2 linked regions of the Homo sapiens genome follow. The protein of the gene in region 2 purifies or fractionates together with the protein of the main gene of each other region. This does not show direct contact. Each region holds a gene or a part of one and is shown on either strand. Other genes may lie near its edges.

Region 1 (4,180 bases), on a different chromosome or scaffold from region 2:
CTCCCAGCTTGAAAAGGGGGTGGTAGTGGAAGAATAGAAATCCCTATAGAGAGAATTACCCCTTCCCATCATCATCAGTCCAGCCTCCCTCCCTCTCTCACTGAGCTCTGCCAGGCTGCTTGAACTCGCTTGATAATCAGCCCCTCGATAGAAGGAAAGGAGAGATCCTAGGTCTTGGGGGAGGGGTGAAGAGGCAGCTGCCACAAGTCCCTGAACCGTCTGCCACTTGGCCTCTCTAGTGAAACTCAAATCTGCCCTTGTGGTCCCAGGAAATAAGAGGCTAATTTAGGCTCAGATCTCCATGATCAGTTGAAATTCTAGATAAATGGCCTCAAAGAGAAGGGTCTCTTTCCTAGCCTGGACCCCACCCATAGTCTCTGTATTCCGGAGCAGTTCTCAGTGTGAACCGTCTCCCCACATCCCCCACTACTGCCAGCACCCCCTCCTGTGCATGAAGGCTGCCTCCAGGAATCTGAGCCCCTTAGACAGGACCTGACAGAGAGAGCAGCTAAGGTCACCACTGCCATGTGCCAGCCCATTCATGCATTTTGGTTGCTCAACATTAGGTGTGGGGTATGGCGTTTGCTGTTGTATAACTCCAGGGAGCTCCATTCCCATTGTAGTCTATGTCTGTACAATGTGTGAATGACACTCCCTAAAGTTGTGTAACACCGAGCAGAGTGTGGGAACAAAGCATTTAAAAACTTTTTCTAGAAAAATAGCTCTTCATCTCCAAGCTAATGAGCTTTCCCACTTTTTAAGGCTTCCTGATTTCCCGTTTGAGCAGGGGCCAGGGAAAGAGGAAACACTGCTAGAAGCAGAGTGAAAGTGGTCTTCCTCCCGGGTTGGATCCCTAGCCTATTTGCGACTGTTCACTTACCAGCCCCCTCTGTGGTCACATCCTGTCTGATGGCCCCTTGTCCTATATGTCTTTGGAGATAAGCAAAGATTTGGGAACCAAGTATCACTTGTAATGTGACACCAGGCTAGTCATTCAAGGCTTTTTGAGACATCTTTGGACCATGAGTATGTGGAAAAGATTACAGGACTGGAAGTCACATCCTCTAAGTCCTCTAGTCCTGGCTTTTCCACCTATTGGGTAAGCAAGCCTCTTTGAATCTCAAGTTGTGCATCGTTATTAAATATATAATTAGGAATGGAAGATAATCTTGCCAGAAGCCTTTCTTACTCTATTAGCCTGGCCCTCTCTGTGGGATTTAAAGGTTGCTTCTTTCTTTAAGCCTGTGAACTGGGAGCTAGAGGGCAGGGGGAAGACACTGGGATTGGGGCCAGAATAAGCCACACTGCCCCTAACTTCTCCTCCCCTCTAGGCCTGAAGACCGGCGGTGGCACATCAGGTGGCTCCAGTGGCTCCTTTCACTACACCTTTCATGGGGACCCCCATGCCACCTTTGCCTCCTTCTTTGGTGGCTCCAACCCCTTCGATATCTTCTTTGCCAGCAGCCGCTCCACTCGGCCCTTCAGTGGCTTTGACCCAGATGACATGGATGTGGATGAAGATGAGGACCCATTTGGCGCTTTCGGCCGTTTTGGCTTCAATGGGCTGAGTAGGGGTCCAAGGCGAGCCCCAGAACCACTGTACCCTCGGCGCAAGGTGCAGGACCCCCCAGTGGTGCACGAGCTGCGGGTGTCCCTGGAGGAGATCTACCATGGCTCCACCAAGCGCATGAAGATCACAAGGCGTCGCCTCAACCCTGATGGGCGAACTGTGCGCACCGAGGACAAGATCCTGCACATAGTCATCAAGCGTGGCTGGAAGGAAGGCACCAAGATCACCTTCCCCAAAGAAGGCGACGCCACACCTGACAACATCCCTGCTGACATCGTCTTTGTGCTCAAAGACAAGCCCCATGCACACTTCCGCCGAGATGGCACCAACGTGCTCTACAGTGCCCTGATCAGCCTCAAGGAGGTGGGGCCTAGTCAGGCTGTGTGTGTGTGCTGGGGAGATGGTGGGGACATTCCCTCTCTTCCCGCCAGCTGGCACATTCTTTCCCCACCTCAGTCTATTTCCTTCCTTCCCACTCACCTTACCCCACCTTTTCCTCACTTTCTGCTTCGTCTTTCCCAGGCGCTGTGTGGCTGCACTGTGAACATTCCCACTATCGACGGCCGAGTGATCCCTTTGCCCTGCAATGATGTCATCAAGCCAGGCACCGTGAAGAGACTCCGTGGGGAGGGCCTTCCCTTCCCCAAAGTGCCAACTCAGCGAGGAGACCTCATTGTTGAGTTCAAAGTTCGCTTCCCAGACAGATTAACACCACAGACAAGACAGATCCTTAAGCAGCACCTACCCTGTTCCTAGGCTCTGCCCCAGCCAGTCCAGAGCCTACCACAGCAATACCCCCAACACTCACTCCACTCAATGTGCACCCAGCTTGATGTCCACTGGACACTGGCAACTTTTTCTAAAATGCAAAAAAAAGCCACTGGTTTTCAGGAAAATGTTCCTGTCCCTGACCCCTTTTAGAGCTGGGCTGCCTGGGGGGAGTGGGAGGGAGGTGGGGAGAGCTAGCCCAGGCCAGGGGTCAATGTTCATGTCACTAGCTTTCAATCCAGTTTCCACTGCAGTGGCTGGAGAGTGACCTGAGTGCTACTTGAAGATATGTAGAGATTCCTTATCCATGCCTGTACATAGCATGTCCTCCTCCCCTCAGCTTTGCTAATACCAGTCCCCTCCCTTCCCTTTGGCTTCCTGCTGTTGGGGGTGGAAAAGACTAGAAAGGACATTGCTTTCTCAGCCCCACCCCCAGGTCCACAGTGTCCAAGGTAATGGCACACATATTCATGCACAAGAAGCACTCACCTAGAGCTGTCTGTGCCTCTCTGGGAGAAAGGAGAGAGGATAAGAAGGGAAAGTTCACAACCTGTGAACAGGGACTTGAGCACGAGACACTTTTCATCTGGAGCAGGGGGGTGAGCTCCTCAGCAGCCTCCGTAACAGCTGCCCTGCCTACACCTGCAGAGCTGGAGGTTCTGTCCTCCCTGCTGCTCTCAGGAGTGTTCAAGGGTGGAGGGCAGGGAATGGGGCCTGAGGTATTAAGGCTAAGAGGTGGGGGACAGGGCCCATCTACCAGCCTTCATCAGGAAGGGAAAGGGCTTTGGGGTCAGGTGGCAGCTATTCCCCACCAAGAGATTCAGGGTCACAGGTTTTTCCCCACACCTCTGAACTCAGGGCCTAGCCACCCCCAAACTTCCAAATCCCACTTTTGTGATATGTGAAGCTACTCATTTCTTACCCTTGGAGGCTGTGTGGGGAATTTCCAGCCCTTTTATGCCTGTGTGATCCCACCCCACCCCCATAGTTGTATAAAGGTCATAGTGAAGAAGCTGGGGGAAGACTGCTTCAGCCAGATCCTGGGGTGGGGTCTTTAGGTTTTCTCACTTTGACAACCCCCGAATGTTTTTATAGTAGTTTTTTTGTATTTTTTTGTAATGACAGTATTATGTAAAAAATAAAGTATTTTAAAAATATGGCATCTGAGCAGGAGCAACAAACCTGGGATGGGGGTGGCTGAGGAGGGCCACTGTCATCCTCCCTCCCGGGCTCTGGTCACCTTTGAGAAGCCCAAGCAGGCCCTCAGTATAAGCTGAAGCTGACCTCTGCCTTCCTCGAAGCCTCCTGGGATTTCTAAAACTTATACTTCAAACACAGCACAGACAGAAAGTACCACTCAGCTATTAGAAGAAACATCTATTTGGGAAGGAAAAATATCCCTGCTCATGAGAGACAGAGACCATTGTCTTCAGATGTGCTAGCATGAAAACAGATTTTCTCTTCTTGTCTAAATTTTCTCTGAGTCAGACAAATTTTCCTTCTAGGAGAAAATTTTTTTCTAGGAGGGGGTGGAGAACTTTTTTTTTTTTTTTTTTTTTTTGACACGGAGTCTTGCTCTGTCGCCCAGGCTGGAGTGCAGTGATGCGATCTTGGTTCACTGCAGCCTCTGTCTCCTAGGTTCAAGCGACTCTCCTGCCTCAGCCTCCGAGTAGCTGGGATTACCGGCATGCACCACCACACCCGGCTAATTTTTGTATTTTTGGTAGAGACAGGGTTTCACCATGTTGCCCAGGCTGGTCTCAAACTCTTGACCTCAAGTGATCCGCCTGCCTTGGCCTCCCAAAGTGCTGGGATTACAAACATGAGCCACTGCTCCTGGCG
Region 2 (4,809 bases):
CCTCAAAGGCCCTTCTCACCCCACCATCCACCGTGATGTTTCCCTGCTGTGTCCAGCGCTGAGGCTGTGTGACGATGTTGTTCTTCACGCAGAGCCCTGGAGAGGCCGTTCAGTTCCCCTCTAGGGTCCAACTGCGGCTGAGGGCCGGTTACTCGAGTCCAGCCGCGCCCATTAAGAGACCTCTCCTCACTTGTAAAGGGGTCTCTCTGCTCCCAAAGAACCACAGGCCGCTGTGTATGTCGGGGGCTCACGAGCTCACGTGCTACACGGCCCAGAAGCAAAAGGTTTAGACAGATTCATCCAGGGGCTTGATTCATGGCTGAAGCGGCCAAGCAGAGCCATGCAGACGACAGCCCAGGAGACCCAACCAGACATCTGGCCTGTTCTGTTCAGGTGCAGGTGCAGGGTATGCCCTCAAGACCCTTGTCTTGCTCATGTGGTTGAGGGAGCCTGGTGCTCGGGTTTGGGAACTCCTGTGCCACATCCTGCCCCTGGCGGATTTGGTGGTGGCACGACAGGCCTGTGGGGTTTCCAGCACCCCGTCACCGCCCCACCAACTCTGCTACACAAACCAGACCCGAAGCCACTCATGTCTTTCCGCCCAGGGCACCAGCGGCTGTCGGTGACGAGCCTGCTCGTCTGCCACGGATTGCTGATGGTCGGCACCAGCCTGGGAGTCCTCGTGGCCCTGCCGGTCCCACGTCTGCAAGGGATTCCCAAAGTGACCGGTGAGTGGCACCTGCAGTCTGAGTGGCTGCATCCTGTCTTGCAGGCTCGTGGAGCATAGCAGTGTGTAGTGTGATTTAACATCCTAGGATTCTTTAAACAATTCATATTATCTGTGGTTTTTCAGTGTATTATAATGACTTAATAGACTGTTTAATTGGAATTATCAATTTATATATTTTTCCATTTTTTACCTTAGTAGTCCAAGGAGAATCTTATGTTTTTATATTCTGTTTACTGCCAGAATTAGTTTCCATCATTCCTTTCTGTGTTTTATATTGTGGAGAAGGAAGCCGGGATCTCCGTTGTTCCTTTGTGTGTTTTATATTGTGAAGAAGGAAGCCGGGATCTCCGTCATTCCTTTCTGTATTTTATGTTGTGAAGAAGGAAGCCGGGATCTCCGTCGTTCCTTTCTGTATTTTATATTGTGAAGAAGGAAGCCGGGATCTCCGTCATTCCTTTCTGTATTTTATGTTGTGAAGAAGGAAGCCGGGATCTCCGTCGTTCCTTTCTGTATTTTATGTTGTGAAGAAGGAAGCCGGGATCTCCGTCTTTCCTTTCTGTATTTTATATTGTGAAGAAGGAAGCCGGGGATCCGAAAAGGCTCCATTGTGCTATTGCAATGTCAGTAAGAGCTCAGGCTGGAACACATGGCCTTTCTGGACACAGTCCCGTTAGGGATTGGAGGCCTTAAAACATGCTTGTGTGTCTGGAATCAGGATTCCCAATCCAGGGAATTGGCCCAGGAAACAGCCTAAGCTAGGAACAAAGTATGATGCAAGAAGACATTTGCCACAGCATTTAATTTTTAACAGCACGAAACAGGAGGTGACCCGCAGTTCGTAATGACGGATTGGGCCATTTAATAAAATGGTGGCATTGCCGGTAATGGGTAGAACACAGCCAGCAGAAGTGGTGTGTGCAGAGCCTGCAGTGACGCGGAAAACTCCTCGTCCTGTTAAGTTCAGTAAACCACAGCCTTAGATTCTATGTGGGTTACTATGTCAGCCAGGGGGAAATACTAACAGAGAAAACGCTTTGCAGGAAGCTTGTAGAGCAGAACTGTTCCTACGGGCTCCATTTCTGTGATTTCCTCCCAGGCCGACCTGACGGTGGCTTCCGTGCACTCAGATTTTGGCAGGTCCACCCACAAGGATTAAGGAATTCTAGTTTTGCCATTCATTTCCTAATTTATGTTTTTATTATGATATATGGGATTGTACATGTTGAGGACCCCAAATCCAAAAACAAAATGCGAAATGCTCCAATTTTTTTTTTTTCTTTTTGAGACGTAGTCTCACTCTGGCACCCAGGACGGAGTCCAGTGGCACAGTCTCGGCTCACTGCACCCTCTGCCTGCCAGGTTCAAGCTATTCTCCTGCCTCAGCCTCCCTAGTAGCTGGGATTACAGGCACCAGCCACCATGCCTGGCTAATTTTTGTATTTTTAGTAGAGGTGGGGTTTCATCATGTTGGCCAGGCTGGTCTCGAACTCCTGAACTCAAGTGATTCGCCTGCCTTGGCCTCAGATGCTCCAAATTCTGTGTCGACGTGATGCTGAAAGGCAGTGCTCATTGGAGGAATTCAGATTTTGGATTTCAGATTTGGGATGCTCAACCGGCAAGTGCAATGCAAATATTCCAACATTAAAAAAAAAAATCCAAAACACTTGTGGTCCCAAGAATTTCAGATAAGTGACACTCAGCCTGTAAATACATAGAATTGTGCATAACGCACAGTTTCACAGTTTAAATGGTAACGAGAAGAGGCCACCTGCCTGTGCCCAGGTCAGAAGGGGCTGTGACTCACACACTGAGCCTCAGCTGCCCCTTCTCAGCCTCAGCCCTCTCTGCTCACAACCCTAGGAAATGATGATGCTGAGTTTTACGTCAATTATTCCTTTGGTCCTCCTCTGTAGTTGTACCAATTTGTATCTTAAAGGGTACTTTTCACCTTTCCGGCTTTTGCATTTTCCTAGCTGTCCCATGGTGCAAGCAGCCTCTGTTGCTTTTTCTCTCAGCCTTGCTGGGGTCAGTCCCTGCTGGTGCCACAGCTATAGTGCTTTCCTCTCCCTGCCTGCAGCCTGCCTCTGAAAGGAGGTGCCCTCATTGCCTCTGGATGGATAGCCAGGTGCTCCCTGAAAGGAGGTGCACTCTCACTGTTCCTCTGGAGGATAGCCAGGTGCTCCCTGAAAGGAGGTGCACTCTCACTGTTTTTCTGGATGGGTAGCTAGGTGCTCCCTGAAAGGAGGTGCACTCTCACTGTTCCTCTGGAGGATAGCCAGGTGCTCCCTGAAAGGAGGTGCACTCTCACTGTTCCTCTGGAGGATAGCCAGGTGCTCCCTGAAAGGAGGTGCACTCTCACTGTTTCTCTGGATGGGTAGCCAGGTGCTTCCTGAAAGGAGGTGCACTCTCACTGTTCCTCTGGAGGATAGCCAGGTGCATCCTGGAAGGAGGCACACTCTCACAGTTTCTCTGGATGGGTAGCTAGGTGCTCCCTAAAAGGAGGTGCACTCACTGTGTTTCTCTGGATGGGTAGCTAGGTGCTCCCTGAAAGGAGGTGTACTCTCACTGTTTCTCTGGATGGGTAGCTAGGTGCTCCCTGAAAGGAGGTGCACTCTCACTGTTTCTCTGGATGGGTAGCTAGGAGCATCCTGAAAGGAAGTGCACTCTCACTGTTTCTCTGGATGGGTAGCTAGGAGCATCCTGAAAGGAGGTGCACTCTCACTGTTTCTCTGGATGGGTAGCTAGGTGCATCCTGAAAGGAGGTGCACTCTCACTGTTTCTCTGGATGGGTAGCGAGGTGCTTCCTGAAAGGAGGTGCACTCTCACTGTTTCTCTGGATGGGTAGCTAGGTGCTTCCTGAAAGGACGTGCACTCACTGTGTTTCTTTGGATGGTAGCTAGGTGCTACCCATTTGCATTACACATCAAGCCTCTGTATATTTGTGTGGCTGGCTCTGCTGACATGGGCAGAAGCTCCTTCTGGGGGCTTGCCCAGGGGCAGCATCGCTGGTGTGCAGGGATCACAGGTGTGTGCTTCGCCAGGTGATGAGCGGGCCTGTCCCTGCACAGTCCCCCCAGCTCCTGCTCCCTGCAGACTTCACTTTGCCACTCTCCTCTTTGGGAAATGGACTCTCACCACGGTGGAAGATTCAGTGATGTCATTTGCCTTGGCCAGAGTAGGATGATGGTGAGGGCTGGGGCCTGTTTCATCTGAAAGCACTTGGGGAAAGGACACGTGCCCCTGTCCATATGTCATGTCACCCACAAAGCATCCAGAAGACACGCCAGGTCCACGTGATGCTTACAGAATCAGTGTGGGGGTTGCGGGGCTGTGTGTGGCTTTAAGAAGACCTGCAGGTGTTTCTGATACGATCGTGACTTTAAAATTTGAATCACATCACCTGAAAACTGAAAGTCCTAATTTTAATCAAATTATAGAGTTAAATTGTTCTGAACCCCAGAACGTTTTTGTAATGAAAAATGGCAGGCAGCCGGTAGTTTAGTCATTTCTTTCCCAAACCAACACATTTCAGGCGTTAATATTTCTAATCAAGACTTAGGAAAATTTGGGATATTTCCATAGGGTAAGTAAGAAGGTATTTTATGCAGAATGGAAAAATGACTATTTTATTACTTTGAAAAGTACAGTAGGAGTATTAGAACTGAAATAGTGCTGAGGAAAACACAACTTTCTATTTTAGAAAATCATTTTTAAAGCCTTTTTCACATTAAGTAAAAACCCAGAGGAATATAATCCAGATATTTTCATCGTAGCTTATTATTCATGTATGCAAGTTACTTACAGGCTTTGTTATTTGGGCAGGGAGGAATGCGTTGGGGTTAAGCCCTGCACTTTTTGCTTCCTTGTCTCAAATTTTGCCTATTTTAAAAGACAGCTGTTGAACTGTTTCCCTTTTCAGGAAGAGGCATGGTCTCCTACCATGCACACAACAGTCCTGTCAAATTCATCGTCCTGGCCACGGCTCTGCACGAGAAAGACAAGGACAAATCCAGGGACAGCCTGGCTCCTGGCCCCGAGCCTCAGGACGAAGACCAGAAGGACGCACTTCCGAGTGGAGG

The links. The genes of interacting proteins can lie anywhere in the genome.
Region 1: the proteins of ARHGEF10 (region 2) and DNAJB5 purify together in Homo sapiens (affinity purification with mass spectrometry; 3 studies listed by BioGRID and IntAct, with this or other methods). This does not show direct contact.

Annotation. Positions count from the first base shown.
Region 1 is NC_000009.12:34,994,934-34,999,113, forward strand, and holds the end of DNAJB5 (dnaJ homolog subfamily B member 5), read left to right. Parts: intron 1-1,331; coding exon 1,332-1,933; intron 1,934-2,092; coding exon 2,093-2,326; 3' UTR 2,327-3,495; downstream 3,496-4,180.
Region 2 is NC_000008.11:1,952,100-1,956,908, forward strand, and holds part of ARHGEF10 (rho guanine nucleotide exchange factor 10), read left to right. Parts: intron 1-605; coding exon 606-728; intron 729-4,649; coding exon 4,650-4,809. UniProt on the Homo sapiens protein: May play a role in developmental myelination of peripheral nerves.